Regions from separate parts of the Homo sapiens genome. Here region 1 is linked to region 2. Evidence: fine-mapped QTL for protein levels in blood plasma. A gene starts in region 2. The other region holds a variant in brackets. All regions are shown on one strand. Distances are from middle to middle. Region 1 overlaps OAZ3 (ornithine decarboxylase antizyme 3). Region 2 holds the start of TDRKH (tudor and KH domain containing).

Evidence for each region. PIP is the posterior inclusion probability: the model's chance that the variant is causal. The UK Biobank Pharma Proteomics Project read protein levels with antibody pairs (Olink). The fine-mapping took linkage between variants from a reference panel, not from the people measured, so its PIPs are less certain.
Region 1: its variant is fine-mapped to the plasma level of the TDRKH protein (UK Biobank, PIP above 0.99).

The regions. Positions count from the first base shown.
Region 1 is chr1:151,768,573-151,777,269 of GRCh38, reverse strand. OAZ3 (ornithine decarboxylase antizyme 3) reads right to left here. Exons shown (of 5, transcript NM_016178.2): 4 at 7,013-7,098; 5 at 5,940-6,193. The coding sequence ends at 6,051. TDRKH (tudor and KH domain containing) reads left to right here. Exons shown (of 13, transcript NM_001083965.2): 7 at 671-831; 8 at 1,002-1,174; 9 at 1,386-1,450; 10 at 1,727-1,878; 11 at 2,104-2,205; 12 at 2,464-2,560; 13 at 2,766-3,776. The coding sequence ends at 2,818. Among named protein-coding and RNA genes, the nearest start is that of OAZ3, 6.3 kb to the right of the region's middle. RefSeq lists enhancers at 6,809-7,503, 7,504-8,200. The variant C/T (reference allele first, on the strand shown) is at 4,888.
Region 2 is chr1:151,787,502-151,796,106 of GRCh38, reverse strand. It overlaps TDRKH (tudor and KH domain containing), which reads left to right and starts at 5,607. Exons shown (of 13, transcript NM_001083965.2): 1 at 5,607-5,727. TDRKH-AS1 (TDRKH antisense RNA 1) reads right to left here and starts at 5,358. Exons shown (of 2, transcript NR_146292.1): 1 at 4,862-5,358; 2 at 1,705-2,292. RefSeq lists a silencer at 5,663-5,922.

The sequences.
Region 1 (8,697 bases), 19 kb after region 2:
TTTCACCATGTTGGACAGGCTGGACTCGAACTCCTGGCCTCAAATGATCCACCCACCTTGGCCTCCCAAAGTGCTGGGATTACAGGCATGAGCCACCATGCCCAGCCTAGACATACTTTATCAACAAGTAAAATTCTCAGCCAGATTTTATATTGCCTTTTTCATTACTGTTTTTAAAAATCATCACTATTGAAAAGGCTGTGAGCTTTCTCTTCTGTACATAGGTTTTGGCGTGGGCAAAGAGGACCTGGATTCCCAAGAAGCTCACAGACTTGTCCAGGGTCATGTAAAGAGTCAGTGGTAGAATGGGATCTGGAACAGGTCCATGTCCGTCACTGTCCATGTAAAGATTGCTGTCCATATACCTTTTTACTGATCCATGCTGTAGCTAGCATATGGAGGTTTACCTTCTGTATAATTGGTGACCGATTTGACTATGTAGCACATGACAAAGAATGTAAGCTGTTATTACTCAGTTACATGGAAAGGTACAAAGGATAGCTTAGTATCTTTCTTTAGGATATTCTTGTTTGATTCATCCAGTTGCCTCTCCTGCCATTTTAAAATGGTAACAGCCATTGGTATTTGTACCTCTCACTACCCTGGTTAGTCTCTTCATTCCAACCAGAGATGGGTCTGATGTGGCCACCATCCTTATCTCTGTGTTCAGTCCCCAGTCCTGACTTCAGTTTTCATGCTGATGAGTACCTAGAAGTCTACGTTTCTGCTTCTGAGCACCCTAACCACTTCTGGATCCAGATCGTTGGCTCCCGCAGCCTGCAATTGGATAAGCTTGTCAATGAGATGACCCAGCACTATGAGAATAGTGTGGTGAGTTGCCATAGGGACAGGGCTGGGGTTTAATGAAAAGAAGGCATATCTTTTTCATTGTACTCTTCCTTTCCCTGTGGAGCAACTACTTTTCTTTCTTCCTCCTGCAATTCTGTTTATGAGCCTACCACTTTGTAACTCTCTGCCTTTCTCCTCCTCCCCACATACAGCCTGAAGACTTGACTGTGCATGTAGGAGACATTGTAGCAGCACCTTTACCTACAAATGGTTCCTGGTATCGAGCCCGGGTCCTCGGCACCTTGGAGAATGGGAACTTGGACCTCTATTTTGTTGACTTTGGAGATAATGGAGATTGCCCACTGAAGGACCTCAGGGCTCTCAGGTCAGTGCTGAGGTCAGCTCAATCCCAACTGCTGACTCAGTTCTGGCCATAGGGTGGTGAGCTGTTGGCAGTTGTCAGGGGGATTTGGAAGGGAACCTGTTTACAGAGAGCAGATGGTTATCGTCTCATGTTAGTTGGTTCTTTCTGAAAGCAGCAATGTAAGAAGATGTTTTTGGCCCCAGGATTCTAATTTTAGTTTCTTTTACTTCAGGAGTGACTTCCTAAGCCTTCCATTTCAAGCAATAGAATGTAGTCTGGCACGGATTGCTCCCTCAGGTAAATTGGTCATGCCATCTATTGAGCTTACCTCCAAATAGAATAACTTCATACAGTTCATTGGAAGGAATTCTCACATTCCCAGGCTTTTTGAATTCTGGGGACTCAGGTGCCTTTTCCTCACCAGCACTAGCAGCAGCCAGAAACTTGCCTGGCAGACCCAACCCAACCAGAGAAGACACAGGTGCCTTCCTGAGTAGAAAAGGGTAGTTCCAACTTCCCTCCAGGGTATAAGCCCCACCCCTATCAGCAGTAACCCCTACAATCTTTTGCCAGGTGACCAGTGGGAAGAGGAAGCTTTGGATGAGTTTGATAGACTCACTCATTGTGCTGACTGGAAGCCTCTGGTAGCCAAGATCTCTAGCTATGTCCAGACTGGGATCTCAACTTGGCCAAAGATCTACTTATATGATACTAGCAATGGGAAGGTAAGACTGGCATTCACTCACTGCTTGCCATATCTTCAGTATATTTATAGCCTAATTTACTTTTTCTTCCTCAGAAACCCTTATCTGATATTACTCTTACTGTAAGATCCTTCTCACCATCTCACCAAAGGAATGTCTTTAAAGTATCAGTCCTTCTGCCTTGTTTCCTCAAATTTGCCCTTGCTTACTGAGAGAACATCATTCCCTTTTCATTTTTCTTCTCAGAAACTTGATATTGGGCTAGAATTAGTACACAAAGGATACGCAATTGAGCTTCCTGAAGACATAGAAGAAAACAGAGCTGTCCCAGACATGTTGAAGGACATGGTGAGCTATTGTAGTTATATAGGGTGCTGCTTCCAGGCAAATCTAGCACATAGACACTAAGGGCTTCTAGTCCTGATACTGTGTTAGCTTTCCTAAGGACTTTGAGCTCCTCCAGTAGTTGACCAAAGGAGCATTTTGTCCCTCTTGGTAGCCAAATGCAACTGCCTTAACCAGGTCCTATGAGAAGAATGAAAGGGTGGCCTCTTTTTTCCTAAAAGCCAACATGTTCCTCCTTTTTTCCTGTTTTCATCCACTCAGGCCACAGAAACAGATGCCTCTCTCAGCACGTTGCTCACTGAGACCAAAAAGAGCTCTGGAGAGATAACACATACCCTGTCCTGCCTCAGCTTATCAGGTACAAGCAGTATTTCCTCCCTAGAGCATCTTTGGAGATTAACTTTTCTCATTCAGTCTTTCCAGAGTAGGGAGGTTAATTGAAGGCTTGGTTCCTAGTCAGGTCATTGAGTACCAAGAGGTCCATTTTTCTTTTGAGCCTCGCTGGCATTGCCTGCTAGAATAGGGCAGTGTCTAACTTTCTCCTTCTTATTTATCTTCAATAGAAGCTGCTTCCATGTCTGGTGATGATAACCTTGAAGATGACTACTTACTCTGAAGTCTGGGCTTCAGTTTGCTCAGCCATCTGCTTTGCTGTGTGAGTGCAGCTATCATCTATCTGTAGCAACAGGAAAGTAATGAGGGCGACAGTGGGGCACTTGCTTTGATTCCCTCTTTCCCATGCCCTGTCTTAATATACTTCTCTGCAGCTGCTTTCCTGCAGCTTAACTTGCTCTCAGATTGAGCACTTTCAAGCTTTTTGTGTATTTCTGTCTTTGGCAGGATTTGGCATAGGAATTGGTGCATGGAGGAGAGGAGTGTATGATAAAGGATCCATGCAGTCCTTCCTTTATTACACATATAGTCTGGCTTGCTGTGGACCAAATTAATATTCTCCTCCCATCAGACTACAAAAAAATTGGACTACCACGCTACAAGTGTGTCTCCCCCATTCCACCTCCGGATCCCTCCCCAACCCTCCAGTGTTTGAATACTGCTGTGTTACTTCCAGGCCGTTCAACGTCAGGCTCAGTCCCCTCTACCAGTCATGATTCACATTACTACTAGGCTGTATCCTTTTTGAGGCTGGGAAACAGTCAGGCTTTCGTCATTGGAAGTGATTCTGCAGACTTCTGACTCACCTTATCAGGTGACTCTGGTTAAGGAAAGCTTTTGAGTGGTGAACTCAAAGACTCCAGTTGAATCAGGAGGCAAAGGCAAAAATTAGCATAATTATATTTAAAAGCCTCAGGAAGTGGGAAGAGAATACTGCCTCCCAGCCTCAATTGCTGATATGTTATTGGAGACAGGCTTTTGAAACTGCTCCAGCTATTTCTCTGTAACCTTTAGTTAAAATATAAGTAGAAAGGAGACAGGAGGCTCAGGAAATTTTCTAAATTGCTAGTATAATATCTATATGTATACACACATATACACCCGTGGAGAGAGAGGAAGAGTATACAGTCCTGTTTGAATCATTTGGAGGATTTTTTTGCTGAATAAAGTTCTCAAGAAAATTTTCTAAAACCAAATTCTGATTGAATCACAAGGTGGAAGCAGGCTGTGAGCCTAAATCTGGTGAAAACTGCCAACTGCCTCACAGAAAGGATCACATCTATGAAACAAGTGTCCCTCCCATATACACATTCATATTCTTTCTCTAAAGTCACTTCAGAAATAACCATTCACTGGCTGGGCACGGTAGCTCACACCTGTAATCCCAGCGCTTTGGGAGGCTAAGGCAGGCAGATTACTTGAGGCCAACATGGTGAAACCCTGTCTCTACTAAAAATACAAAAAATTAGCCAGGCATGGTGGCATGCACCTGTTGTCCCAGCTGCGTGGGAGGCTGAGGCAGGAGAATTGCTTGAACCTGGGAGGTGGAGGTTGCAGTGAGCTGAGATCATGCCACTGCACTCCAGCCTGGGTGACAGAGAGAGACTCTGTCTCAAAAAAATACAAAAATACAAAATACAAAAATTAGCTGGGCGTGGTGGCAGGCACCTGTAATCCCAGCTATTTGGGAGGCTGAGGCACAAGAATCACTTGAACCTGGGAAGCGGAGGTTGCAGTGAACCCAGATTGCACCACCACACAACCTTGTCTCATAAAAAAAAATTCACTAGGAACCAGAACCAATTTAGGTTTAGGCTGTGTGAGTAAGACCCCACCTATACTATTCAAAAGAAAAGGCCCAGATTAAGATTCTAGAAACCTGGATTCTAGGAGCAGCTCTGGTAAGTAGCTCATGTAGTCTTGGAGGAATCTTTAAGGAGTAGATCTCCACTGTAAACTTTTTGCAAAATTTTAACGTGTTTCCTTATAGCATCTTTCTGACAGTACTGTGAGGCTCAAATGCGAGGCTTGAAGTACTTGAGGTGCTTGAAAGTAAATATAAATGTATAGTAATGTGGATGGTAGAAAAATGGCAAGTGAATTTTTTTTAAGGATAAAGCAAGATAAACTAGAAAATTTAAAACTAGCACATAAGGATGCCTTACACAGGTCTTTTTTTTAAATTTAGGGATTAGTAACGTCTACCTCTATACTACATGGCAACTATATTTTCTCACAACCACAATTCTCAAAATTTATTTTCTCAGAAAAATCTCAGTATTAGCCAGGCAC[C/T]GGTGGCTCACACCTATAATCCCAACACTTTGGGAGGCCGAGGCGGGCAGATTGCTTGAGCTCAGGAGTTCGAGACCAGCCTGGCACCATGCTGAAACCCGTAAATACAAAAAAATTAGCCAGGCATGGTGGTGTGTGCCTGTGGTCCTAGCTACTTGAGAGGCTGAGGTGGGAGGATCGCTTGAGCCCAGGGAAGCAGAGGGTGCAGTGAGTGAGCCAAGATTGCACCACTCCACTCCAGCCTGTGTGACACAGCAAGATGCTGTCTCCAAAAAAAGAAAAGAAAAATCTCAGTCCCAATTAGCAGAAAGGCTCTAGTGAAGGAACAGTTCTGGTGAGTAGTTCAGGTACTCTTGGAGGAATCTTTAAGGAGCTTCCATTTATTTGATGTTTCAGATGTTGCCTGCAATGAACTCGCTGAAGCATGCTCAGCCCTGGAACTGGTGCTACCAGAGTTCCGTAGGGAACCTTTACTCTTTAGAGGTTCCCTGATATAAATCATTCATAAGACTTCCTACCCTGGAAAATGAGTAATGTCTCATTCTTACCTGCAGTTTGTTACTATGTATAAAAGTCTTTTTCTTTAATATGCCTTTAAGTCTTACCTGTTTACAGCCCATTCTGATGGGTTCTTTGTCATTCTGTTAGTATAACCCAGTACTTTTCCTGCTGCCTGGAATGCCCTCTTCTATGTTACCTATTCTGTCCGTTGAGATCCCCCAACTTGGGCCAAAGCCAAGAGATCTATGTGCCTTCTCTGGTTTTCTCCACATCTATAGCACCTCAACTGAAATATATGGATAAAAACAGCCTAACAAAGCTCAGTCTTTCTGAACTAGGAAGTTCACTGATTAGTGCTCAGTAAATGGTTAGAATAAATGGGGAAATAGTTTGGGGCATGGAGGAAGGCAAAGGGAACCAAAAATCCTTAGGTACTTTCCTCCGTAGTTCAGGTCCCTGTGATCTTTTCAGTGAATTTAGCTCTGTTAAGGTGTATATCCCACTCCAGTCAACCCTATTACCCACCCCCCCAAGAAACCGTGAACACTTGATGATTGCACTACCCTTTATTCCTAGGATGGAAAGTGTCCTGAATCACATCCCGGGCCCCTGATTCCATGTGTCAAGGCTTCCAGCCCCTCAAAGCGTTGGAATAAGCATGTTCAAGGAGGCTCACTGGGCAGGTGGCCAACATCCCTTTCAAGGGGATACACCATAAAGATGACATTGTCCAAGGGAGGGAGGGCAGGGTGATCTGGTCTGACCACCTCAAAGCCCATGTAGCTGAAGGCCCGCAGCAGGGCACCTGTGAAAGGATAGAACAAATGATTAGAACATGCTTTAAAACTCAATACATGTATGCCCCCAGATTTGATTTCTTCCACTAGGGAGTGGCCCTGGGAAGCAGTGTAGTGCAGGCATATAGGATGTGCTTTAGTCCAACAGACCTAGGCTCTAACTCTGGTTTTAACACTTGTTCTGTGAGTTAGTCCTGCAGAACTTCAGTTTCCATCTATAGAATTTTCCATTTATAAATCATAGAACCTTCCTCCTCACAGAATTTAAGATGAAATGAGATGTTCATGAAGTGCTTAACACTAGAGATTAGTGAGGTCTACCTATATACTAATACAATGATGACATAGTAAGCTCTGAAATAGTATCTATCACTTATGAATGGTTATTCACCATCCCTTATATCCAACAGAGTTTGAGCTCCTTGAGGCAAGAGGCTATAGTTTCTGTAACATATGCTCCAGGCATCCGGTTAAATATGTCCCCGTTCCCTTGGCCTTATGTCTGACCCTTTCACATTGTAGGTGCTCCATATGTTTGAGATCCATTTTGTCCTGCTGGCCACATCCCTTGAATGGATTCTGTGTAATTTCACCAGTGCTCCTTCAGTCTGGCCCCTAACACCACCTGCAGGGGCTTCCTCAGAGTCCAGTTGTAACTTGATGGAACAAGTTACAACTTCCCACCTTCGTGGTAGGTGGGAAGAAAAGAATCCCTGAAATGCCTGAGGGTGCATTTTTAAAGACAGGGGAAGAGGGTCTCCTATAAAGGAAAAGGAGTTATCCAGCTGCCTCAGCGCGAAAAGCAAGGAAGAACAGCAGATCCCCACCTCTGTCGTTCCGATCATTCTGGAAGTTCACAAACACAGAGTCCACATTTGTCTTCTCTTCCACGTACTCCAGGGTTGCAGTCAAACTAGGAGCCACAGAAAAACAGTTAAAATGTTTGGCCGCTCCCTCTCCCTCTCCCTCTCCGTCTCCGTCTCCCCATGGTCTCCCTCTCCCTCTCTCTCCACGGTCTCCCTCTGATGCCACCAAAGTTGTGAAAGCCGAAGCTGGACTGTACTGCTGCCATCTCGGCTCACTGCAACCTCCCTGCCTGATTCTCCTGCCTCAGCCTGCTGAGTGCCTGGGATTGCAGGCGCGTGCCGCCATGCCTGACTGGTTTTCGTATTTTGGTGGAGACGGGGTTTCGCTGTGTTGGCCGGGCTGGTCTCCAGCTCCTAACCACGAGTGATCTGCCAGCCTCGGCCTCCTGAGGTGCCGGGATTGCAGACGGAGCCTCGTTCACTCAGTGCTCAGTGTTGCCCAGGCTGGAGTGCAGTGGCGTGATCTCGGCTCGCTACAACCTCCACCTCCCAGCCGCCTGCCTTGGCCTCCCAAAGTGCCGAGATTGCAGCCTCTGCCCGGCCACCACCCCGTCTGGGAAGTGAGGAGCGTCTCTGCCTGGCCGCCCATCGTCTGGGATGTGAGGAGCGCCTCTGCCCGGCCGTCATCCCGTCTAGGAAGTGAGGAGCGTCTCCGCCCAGCCGCCCATCGTCTGGGATGTGGGGAGCGCCTCTACCCGGCCACGACCCTGTCTGGGAACTGAGGAGTGTCTCTGCCCAGCCGCGACCCCATCTGGGAGGTGAGGAGCATCTCTGCCCGTCCGCCCTGTCTGAGAAGTGAGGAGCCCCTCCGCCCGGCAGCCGCCTCGTCTGGGAAGTGAGGGGCGTCTCCGCCCGGCAGCTGCCCCGTCCGGGAGGTGGGGGGCAGCCCCCGCCCGGTCAGCCGCCCCGTCTGGGAGGGAGGTGGGGGGCAGTCCCCACCCGGCCACCGCCCCCTCCGGGAGGTGGGGGGTGCGTCTGCCCGGCCGCCCCTTTTGGGAAGTGAGCCCCTCTGCCCGGCCGCCACACCGTCTGGGAGGTGTACCCAAGAGCTCATTGAGAATGGGCCATGATGACGATGGCGGTTTTGTCGAATAGAAAAGGGGGAAATGTGGGGAAAAGATAGAGAAATCAGATTGTTGCTGTGTCTGTGTAGAAAGAAGTAGACATAGGAGACTCCATTTTGTTCTGTACTAAGAAAAATTCTTCTGCCTTGGGATGCTGTTAATCTATAACCTTACCCCCAACCCCATGCTCTCTGAAACGTGCTGTGTCCACTCAGGGTTAAATGGATTAAGGGCGGTGCAAGATGTGCTTTGTTAAACAGATGCTTGAAGGCAGCATGCTCGTTAAGAGTCATCACCACTCCCTAATCTCAAGTACCCAGGGACACAAACACTGCGGAAGGCCGCAGGGTCCTCTGCCTAGGAAAACCAGAGACCCTTGTTCACTTGTTTATCTGCTGACCTTCCCTCCACTATTGTCCTATGACCCTGCCAAATCCCCCTCTGTGAGAAACACCCAAGAATGATCAATAAATACTGGGAAAAAAAAATTTGGCCAACTCAGAATCCAGAAAGACACCTACTTGGAGCAGTAAAAATATTATTGGTCGTTTTCTGCCCTCCACCCACCCAAGCCAGGAAATG
Region 2 (8,605 bases):
CAGACTCAGACAGCTGAACAGCACTTGAATGAATCATTCGTATGTTGTACAGGGAAGGAACTCTGTGGGCAGCCAAGGCTCCGGAGCCAGGCTCCTTGTATTTCAGAGCCCCTCACTGCCCAGATCCCTAGCTAAGATCTTCTTTCCTGCTTCAGTTTACTAAAGGGAACACCTGCTCACTGAACCCTCTGGGAAACCCAGAACTTATCTTAACTCACTCCACCTAATGCCTCCCACAGCCTGTTCAGAACACCCTTCAGGGAAAGAGAATAGACTCTTAGGACTGGAGATGAGAATAAAGAAATTACAATTCACTCAATCCCAGCATCTCACAATTCAATCTTTCAATCCTGATTTGGGATCTGAGAGGAGAAATGAGATGACAAATCCCAAATGTACAGTGACTTGAGGGTGAGTTTGGCATCAGCTCACTCGAAGTTATTTCTTCTGCTCCCCAACCTCCCTACCCAGCAAGTTAGAATTCAATCTGATTTTAAAATAAGATCAAATAAATCTCATTTTAAAATAAGATCATAGTGGCTCACACCTGTAATCCCAGCACTTTGGGATGCTGAGGCAGGTGGATCACCTGAGATCAGGAGTTCAAGATCAGCCTGGGCAACATGGTGAGACCCCATCTCTACTAAAAATACAAAAATTAGCCGGGTGTGGTGGTGTGCACCTATAATCCCAGCTATTCGGGAGGCTGAGGCAGGAAGATCATTTGAACCCGGGAGGCAGAGGTTGCAGTGAGCCAAGATCGTGCCACTGCACTCCAGCCTGGATGATAGAGTGAGACTCCATCTCAAAAAAAAAAAAAAAAAATCCGGGAAAAGTGATGCCACCTGGCTTTTCACTGCTCTGATTAAGAAATTCCTCCTGTGAGGCTGAGCACACTGACTCACTCCTGTAATCCCAGCACTTTGGGAGGCTAAGGCAGGTGGATGCCTTGAGCCCAGGAGCTGGAGACCAGCCTGGGCAACATGGTGAAACCCCATCTCTGCTAAAAAGACAAAAATTAGCCGGGTGTGGTGGTGCATGTCTGTAGTCTCAGCTACTTGGGAGGCTGAGGCAGGAGGATCGCTTGAGCCCGGGAGGTGGAGGTTGCAGTGAGTAGAGATCATGCCATTGCCCCAAGCCTGGGCAACAGAGCAAGACTCTGTCTTAAAAAAGAAATAAATTCCTCTTGTGGTTTAACTATAAAGTGTAACCCCCTTTTTGGACTTCATTTCCTCTTTTTTGCCCATCCCACCTTCACTGGAGCTAGAAGAAGATGGACCCATAAAGTAGGTCTGTATTTTTATAGCAACACTGGACACATTCTTCCTTGGATTTGAACTACCATTTTACTTTTTTTAAAGTAAAAATAGCTATAGCAATCAAGGCACTCAATACCTAGGAATAATTTTAATAAGAAGTATGTAAATTCTACATAATGAAAACTAAAATTCTACTGATGGGGTACCAATGACTTGAATGTATAGGAAGATAGGAAGATTCTTATCATACATTCTCCTTTAGATAATCTAAAAATATGTGATTCCAGCCAAAATAACAGTAACAGAATAGAAGAGTAAATTATGGTTCAATATAGCCTCACAATATTATACCACACAGTAGTCAGAATGAAGGGACTAAAACTATACACAATATGGCTGAATCTCACAGAAATAATTTGAACAAAGGAAGCCAGACACAAAAGAGTACATACTCTGTGATTCTCTTTATATAAAAAGCAAGAACAGGCAAAATTAGTTTATGGTATCAGGAGTCAGAAGAGTGGTTGTCCTTGAGAAGAGCAGTGACTGAGAGGGAACACACAAGTGGCTTCTGGGGCACTAGCAATGTTCTGTTTCTTGATCTGCTGCTGGTTACACAAATGTATTCCATTTGTGAAAATTCATCAAGATATATACTTGTCATTTGTGCATTTTTCTGCATGTATATTATAAATTAATTTTTTAAATTGTGGTAAAAAAAAAAACCATAATGTATACAATTTAAAAAATTTTTAGGCCGGGCGCAGTGGCTCATGCCTGTAATCCCAGCACTTTGGGAGGCCGAGGCGGGCGGATCACCAGGTCAGGAGACCGAGACCATCCTGGCTAACACGGTGAAACCCCGTCTCTACTAAAAATACAAAAAATTAGCCAGGTGTGGTGGTGGGCACCTGTAGTCCCAGCTATTCGGGAGGCTGAGGCAGGAGAATCGCTTGAACCAGGGAGTTGGAGGTTCCAGTGAGCCGAGATCGTGCCACTGCACTCCAGCCTGGGTGACAGAGTGAGACTCCGTCTAAAAAAAAAAAAAAAAAAATTAATGATCAATGGAACAAAATGAAAAAAATCCAGAAATAGACCCAAATACATATGGCAATTTGGTATTATAAAGGTAGCATTCAAAAACAATGGAGAAAACATGGGTTATTCAATAAGAAGGATTTGAATAAAACAAAACAAAATTGGATCTCTATCTCACACCTTTACACCAAAATAAATTCCAGATGAATCAAATATTTACATATACAAAGACACTATCAAAGTACTTTTTAAAAAAACATAGGAGCTTTAAGAATAATCTTAAATAGTGGGAGACTTTACTAAAAATTATATGAAACACAGAAGTTGGCCAGGCACAGTGGCTCACGCCTGTAATACCAATACTTTGGGAGGCTAAGGCGGGTGGATCACTTGAGGCCAGGAGTTTGAGACCAGTCTGGCCAACATGGCAAAACTACTCCGAGTCTACTAAAAAATACAAAAATTACCCAGGTATGGTGGTACATGCCTGTAATCCCAACTACTCAGGAGGCTGAGGCACGAGAATCTCTTCAACCTGGGAAGCAGAGGTTACAGTGGGCCAAGATCATGCCACTGCACTCCAGCCTGGGCGACAGAATGAGACTCTGCCTCAAAAAAAGAAAGAAAGAAACCCAGAAATTATCAAAGAAAATATTGATAAATTCAATTACATAAAAATTTTTAACATTTGCAAAGAATAACCATAAACAGGCTGAGGGCAATGGCTCAGGCCTGTAATCCTAGCACTTTGGGAGGCTGAGGCAGGCTGATCACCTGAGGTCAGGAGTTGGAGACCAGCCTCAAAATATGCAATATACATAGAACAAACTTGGAAAAGGGAAAATACTTGTTATATGTATAAACAATATACATAGAACAAACTGGGAAAAGGGACATACTTTTTTTTTTTTTTTTTGGAGATGGGGTCTCGCTCTGTTGCCCAGGCTGGAGTGCAGTGGCAATCTCGGCTCACTGCAACCACCGCTTCCCCAGTTCAAGTGATTCTCCTGCCTCAGTCTCCCAAGTAGCTGGGATTACAAGCGCTTGCCACCATAACCGGCTAATTTTTGTATTTTTAATAAAGACGGGGTTTCAGCATGTTGGCCAGGCTGGTCTTGAACTCCTGACCTCAGGTGATTAGCCTGCCTCAGCCTCCCAAAGTGCTGGGATTACAGGCGTGACCCACCACACCTGGCCGGGGAAAATACTTTTAACTTATATACAAACAGCAAGTATTAAGAAATGACCCTATAACCAATAAAAATATGAACAGAATATAAAAACAGAGAATTTACAAAAAAATTGCCATTTAAATATATTAAAAGATGCTCAACTTTACTTATAAGAGCAATGAAATTTTATCTTGCAATGAGATAGCATTTACACTATCAGATTGTCAAAAATCAGGAAGTTTAACAGCACCAGTGTGCTATCAAACAGGTTCTTTTCATACATTGCTGACAGGAGACAAAATTGGTAAAATTTCCAGGGAAGGCAATTTGGTAATACTAACTAAAATCATTTTCAAAAATTGCTGGTGGGATTAAAATTATAAAAATCTTTGTGGGAGGAAGGGAATTTACAAAATTTTATCTATCCAAATGAAAAAACAATGCACACATTTCTTTAACTTGGCACTTGCATTTCTAAGTATTTATCATACACATATGCAAGAGGGAAATGAAGTATCCTTGCATATCAATCAAATGTTAAAGGACTGGTTAAATATATCTTCATATATCCCTCAGGCATACTATGAAACTATCACTATGAGGCAGATACGTATATGCTGCTACGGAAACATTTCCAGACTGTATCAAAGAAAGTTGCAAAATAGTATGTATGTTATCAACTGGGTTAAAAAAATATATGTGTGTGTATATATATATACACTTTATATATTACACATATACACACGTTAACTATAGAATATCTTGTGAAATTTTTCACAAGAAACTGGTAACCCTAGTTGCCTTGAAGGAAGGAAAATTTATTCACTATAATAACCTTGTTTCTTCTGAATTTTGTAGAATGTAAATGTATTACTTATTCAAAACGCATACACATTTTTATATTAATAGAAAGCAAAACCTGAGGCCCAAAGGCATCTGCCTAATTGACAAAAGATACAACCTTGCGTTCTTTCAGCAAATATTTATTGCTCATCACCTGCCAGGTATTGTGATGGAAGCTAGTGCGGAAGATCCCCCAATGACCAGGATCGCCCGACCCCTGTTCCCAGGGTGAGCCCCTAGCGCGGAGCGGGGACAGGGTGGACCGAGTAGGGCGCAGTGCTGGTCTCGCGAGGCTCCCTGCCCCACGGAGGCAGTAGCAGGACCCAACCGTTCCTAACCGTCCAGGGACCAGGACAGCGTCTGGAATAAAATCTTCCAAAGCAAACTTCCGCCTGCGGAGACCCGCTCCCTTCCTCGCCCCCACAGAAACGCCCCCCGCCACCACCCCCTCCCCCGGCGTAGGCCTTCACGCTGTCGCCTCGACCCGTTTCCTCGAATCCCCAGGGAAGGGTGGGCCCCTGGCGCCCCTATGGCCCGCCGCCCCCTTACCACCGCGGTCGGAGCCCGGGTCTCACTCTCCTGCCGCTGTTTCGGGCCACACCGTGTGTCCGTGCCTCCGCAAAGGAATAGAAGAGTGGGTCCTCGCTCTCTGCGGCGCACCGCTTGTCCCTTGACTTCCTGTCCATCTACAAAGCCTATTTCATGTTTTCCAGAAAGAAAACGTTTTCCGTGTCTCTTGAGTCCTCATCGCCATATGCGGGGCGGGACCGATCTATGCAAAAGATCGCAAGAGAAAACTGATGGAGCATCGCCCATCATGAGGCTGCTCTCCCGATGGTCACTGAGTTGTGTTGTGGCACTGTCTTTGTACAAAGACACCAATTTTTGCGAACGGTGCCACTCATGATTCAACGCTCTCATGCCTCGGTCCCAGCTGCTGGAGCGCAGATTTTCCTCCAAGGGTTAGAAGATAGAAAACTCCTCGGTAATTGGCCTAGAGGTGGTCTGCGAGGACGCCGGGAAGCTTGTAATTGGCTGTTTAATTCTCAGCAGGTGCGGTCTCAGTTAACAACATCTGCTTTTCCTGGATCTTATTGGCTGACAGGGTGGGCCTGCTTTGGATTCCATCCGGGTAATTGGGCAGCGGCTAGCAGCAGCCACGTCGCTCAGGGGCAGCCCGCGGAAGGATTGGTTGTGACGGGAGAAGGCGATTGGTCGGACTGCGAGCAGGGTGTTGATTGGTGCTGTCGGGCTGCGGGGGCGGGGAAGTGGCGGCTGAAGCGCCGCCGGCGGGGCTCACTGTGGTGGTGTGAGTGGGAGGCGGCGGCGCTGGTGGCTGCAGCTGGGGTGAGGCGCGAGGCGGCGCACTCGACGGCTGACTGGAGCAGCGGTAAAGGCGAGGATGGAGACCGAAGGTTTGGGGAGTGGGAAAGACAGGGTCATGGGCAGCCCTGGCCACTAGGAGACGGAAATGCGGGAGCGAGGGAAGGGAGGGGTCTGGCGTGCCCCGGGGCGAGGGAAGGATGTGGGGCGCAGCGGGGGAGTCAGAGCCCTGGGCTGTGAGACGCCGCTCGGGGGCAACTTGACCCACTGGGAACTCGTAACTGTATCTGAGGAAGATGCTCCAGTCACCCGCTTACGCCACAACGGACCCGGTGCGGGAGCGTTTGTGTTTGCCCTGAGTCAGTTCAGACTCTTCCACTGGGCCTTTTTGAGACTGAGAGCTGCCATCCGTATATCACTTTGCCTTTAACTTTCCCCAGCTTTTTCTTTAGTTATCGCTAATAGGATGGCTGTTTACAGTCGTCAGAATAATACATTGGGGTTTTTGTTTTTCCAGTATCCCTCATTCCTTAATCCAGGTATCATCGTGGGGGTTGGCTGGAGACCCCTATTTCAAAGACTGACTTTTAGACCCTTTCCTTGTTTTGAGAGAAAGGGGTTGACACTTTTTTTTTTCTCGTGAATTTAAAATAAACGTACCAAGGATGAGAACATTGAGCTGCTTCGATTCAAGCATGTCACCATGTTGTAGGTTCTTTGTAGGTTCTGGTTATTAGGAGATACTGGAATGAGTTATCTATGCTTTCATGGAGCTAACAATGTGATTTGACTTCTCATCACATCCTATTTGACTCCTGTCATTTTAAATGATAAAGTAAGCCTTAGCGATGCATATCAGATAGTTTTTGGCAATTGTTCAATACAAATGTCAGGAAATTTCAAAGTTAGCTTTCACTGAAAACCATTATCTAACCACATTCCTCACTGAACAATGATCCTCATCTTCTCTTCTTAGCTTCCCCTAGAAACTGTGGTCTTAAGTTCTAGTATTTTCCTCCTTCCCATTCAATTTTTAAGTAATAAAATCAAACACAAGCTAGCAGTCAGTACTATGCAGTTATCCCCGTTTACATTATATTATTTTCCATTTCTCTTTAAGAGAAACTTATAGCTGAAAGGATATGAAAATTGTGAACAAAACCATAGTGACAGATCAAGTAGAGTCTCATTTTTTGAGACATCAGCTGATAACTCAATTAGCACAAATTCATTTGTAATGTTTGAAGAGGAGTTAGTGAAATTTACCTTTTGCTTCAAATAGAAGTCGGCCAAAACCGCACCTATAATCTCAGCTACGCCGGACGACTGCGGGAGTTCAAGGCTGCAGTGAGCTATTATCATTCACTGCATTCCATCCTGGGTGACAGACCAAGGCTCTGTCTCTAAATAAACAACAACAAACTCTCCAATTCATCTGTTCTCCATCTCCATCATTGACACCTGGACTAGGCCCTGATTGGTCTCCTGCAGCCACGGTTGCTGCCTTCAATTCATTCTCCTCACCACGGACACAGATGTTAATCAAGAATGACAAGCATGGCATGTGTTATCAAGGGATATTGGGGATTCTGTGGAAACCCATAGCAATGTAATTCAACCCAGTGTAGGGGGTCGAGATTGAGGGGCCTTGGCTGCAGAGACCCCTCTGCACTTGATCTTGATAGTGTCAGAACTGGAAAACAAAAGTGCTGCTAGTCCTTTGGGCCTCTGTAAAGAGGTGTGATTATGACTGGCCATCAAAACAGACTTATTTCTATTGCACACTGTATTGTGTAGAAATGACTAATGAGCTGTGTGATCTTAGATCAATCCTTTTCTATCCCTTAGCCGCAGTTTCCCAAATTGCAACGTTATTAATGGAATCAAATAAGTTCTGTAGTCCCTTCTAGTTATAAAATCTTGTGATTTCTATGCCCCATAAGCATCAATTATGGCCAGTTTTTAAAAGCAGACAGCATGAAAATACAGATCCAGTTTATTCTTGTTCACAGGGCTAGATTTCAGTTTCCCAAAGCCCTTAAGACCTAAAGACTCCTGCCTGTCAAGATCTTCCTTGCCAGACAGGAAACTCCATGAAGGCAGCTGCCAAATCTATCTTGACTGTTGTGTCCCGAGGGTCAAGCACACATCAGAATTCGATATTTATTGGCTTGAATAAATGTCCATTTAGTGCAGTTCATTCATGTAGTATAGGTTTGCGGAAGAAAAGTGAGTTGTATTTTAATGAGATGATTTTCAACTATACACCATCTAAGAAATAAACCTTAAGGTTCTAGCTACTTTCAACTGTCGCATTGACCAAGAATTTATACAGTTGTCCCTCCCTTCGTTATTTGCAGGGGATTGGTTCCAGGAACCCTGCAGAACCCAAATCCATAGATGCTCATGTCCCTTGTATAAGATGCATATTATTTGTATATAACCTACACACATCTTGCCCTATACTTTTTTTTTTTAAACCCCTTGAGACAAATTCTCGCTCTGTTGCCCAGGGTGGAGTGCAGTGGTGTCATCAGTTTACTGCAGCTTCCACCTCCTGGGCTCAAGCCATCTCCCACCTCGGCCTCCTGAGTAGCTGGAACTACAGGTGTGCAACACCACGCCTAGCTAATTTTTTTTTTTTTTTTTTTTTTTTTTTTTTTGTAGAAACAGAGTCTCACTATGTTGCCCAGGCTAGTCTTGAATACTTGGTCTCAAGCAGTCCTCCTACCTTAGCCTCTCAAAGTGCTGGGATTAACAGGCATGAGCCACTGTGCCCAGCCTGTTTTGGTGTTTATGTTTCCTAGACTATGAATATTTCCAAGTAGAAATTCTTCTTCCTCCTTCTGTCCCCAACGTGCTCAGCACACAAGAAAGAGCTAGCACTATTTAACCAAGATGCATTAATAATGGAAACAAGCTTTGCACTTTAGTGGTCATATAAGAAAATACCTAAGCCAGGCGCAGTGG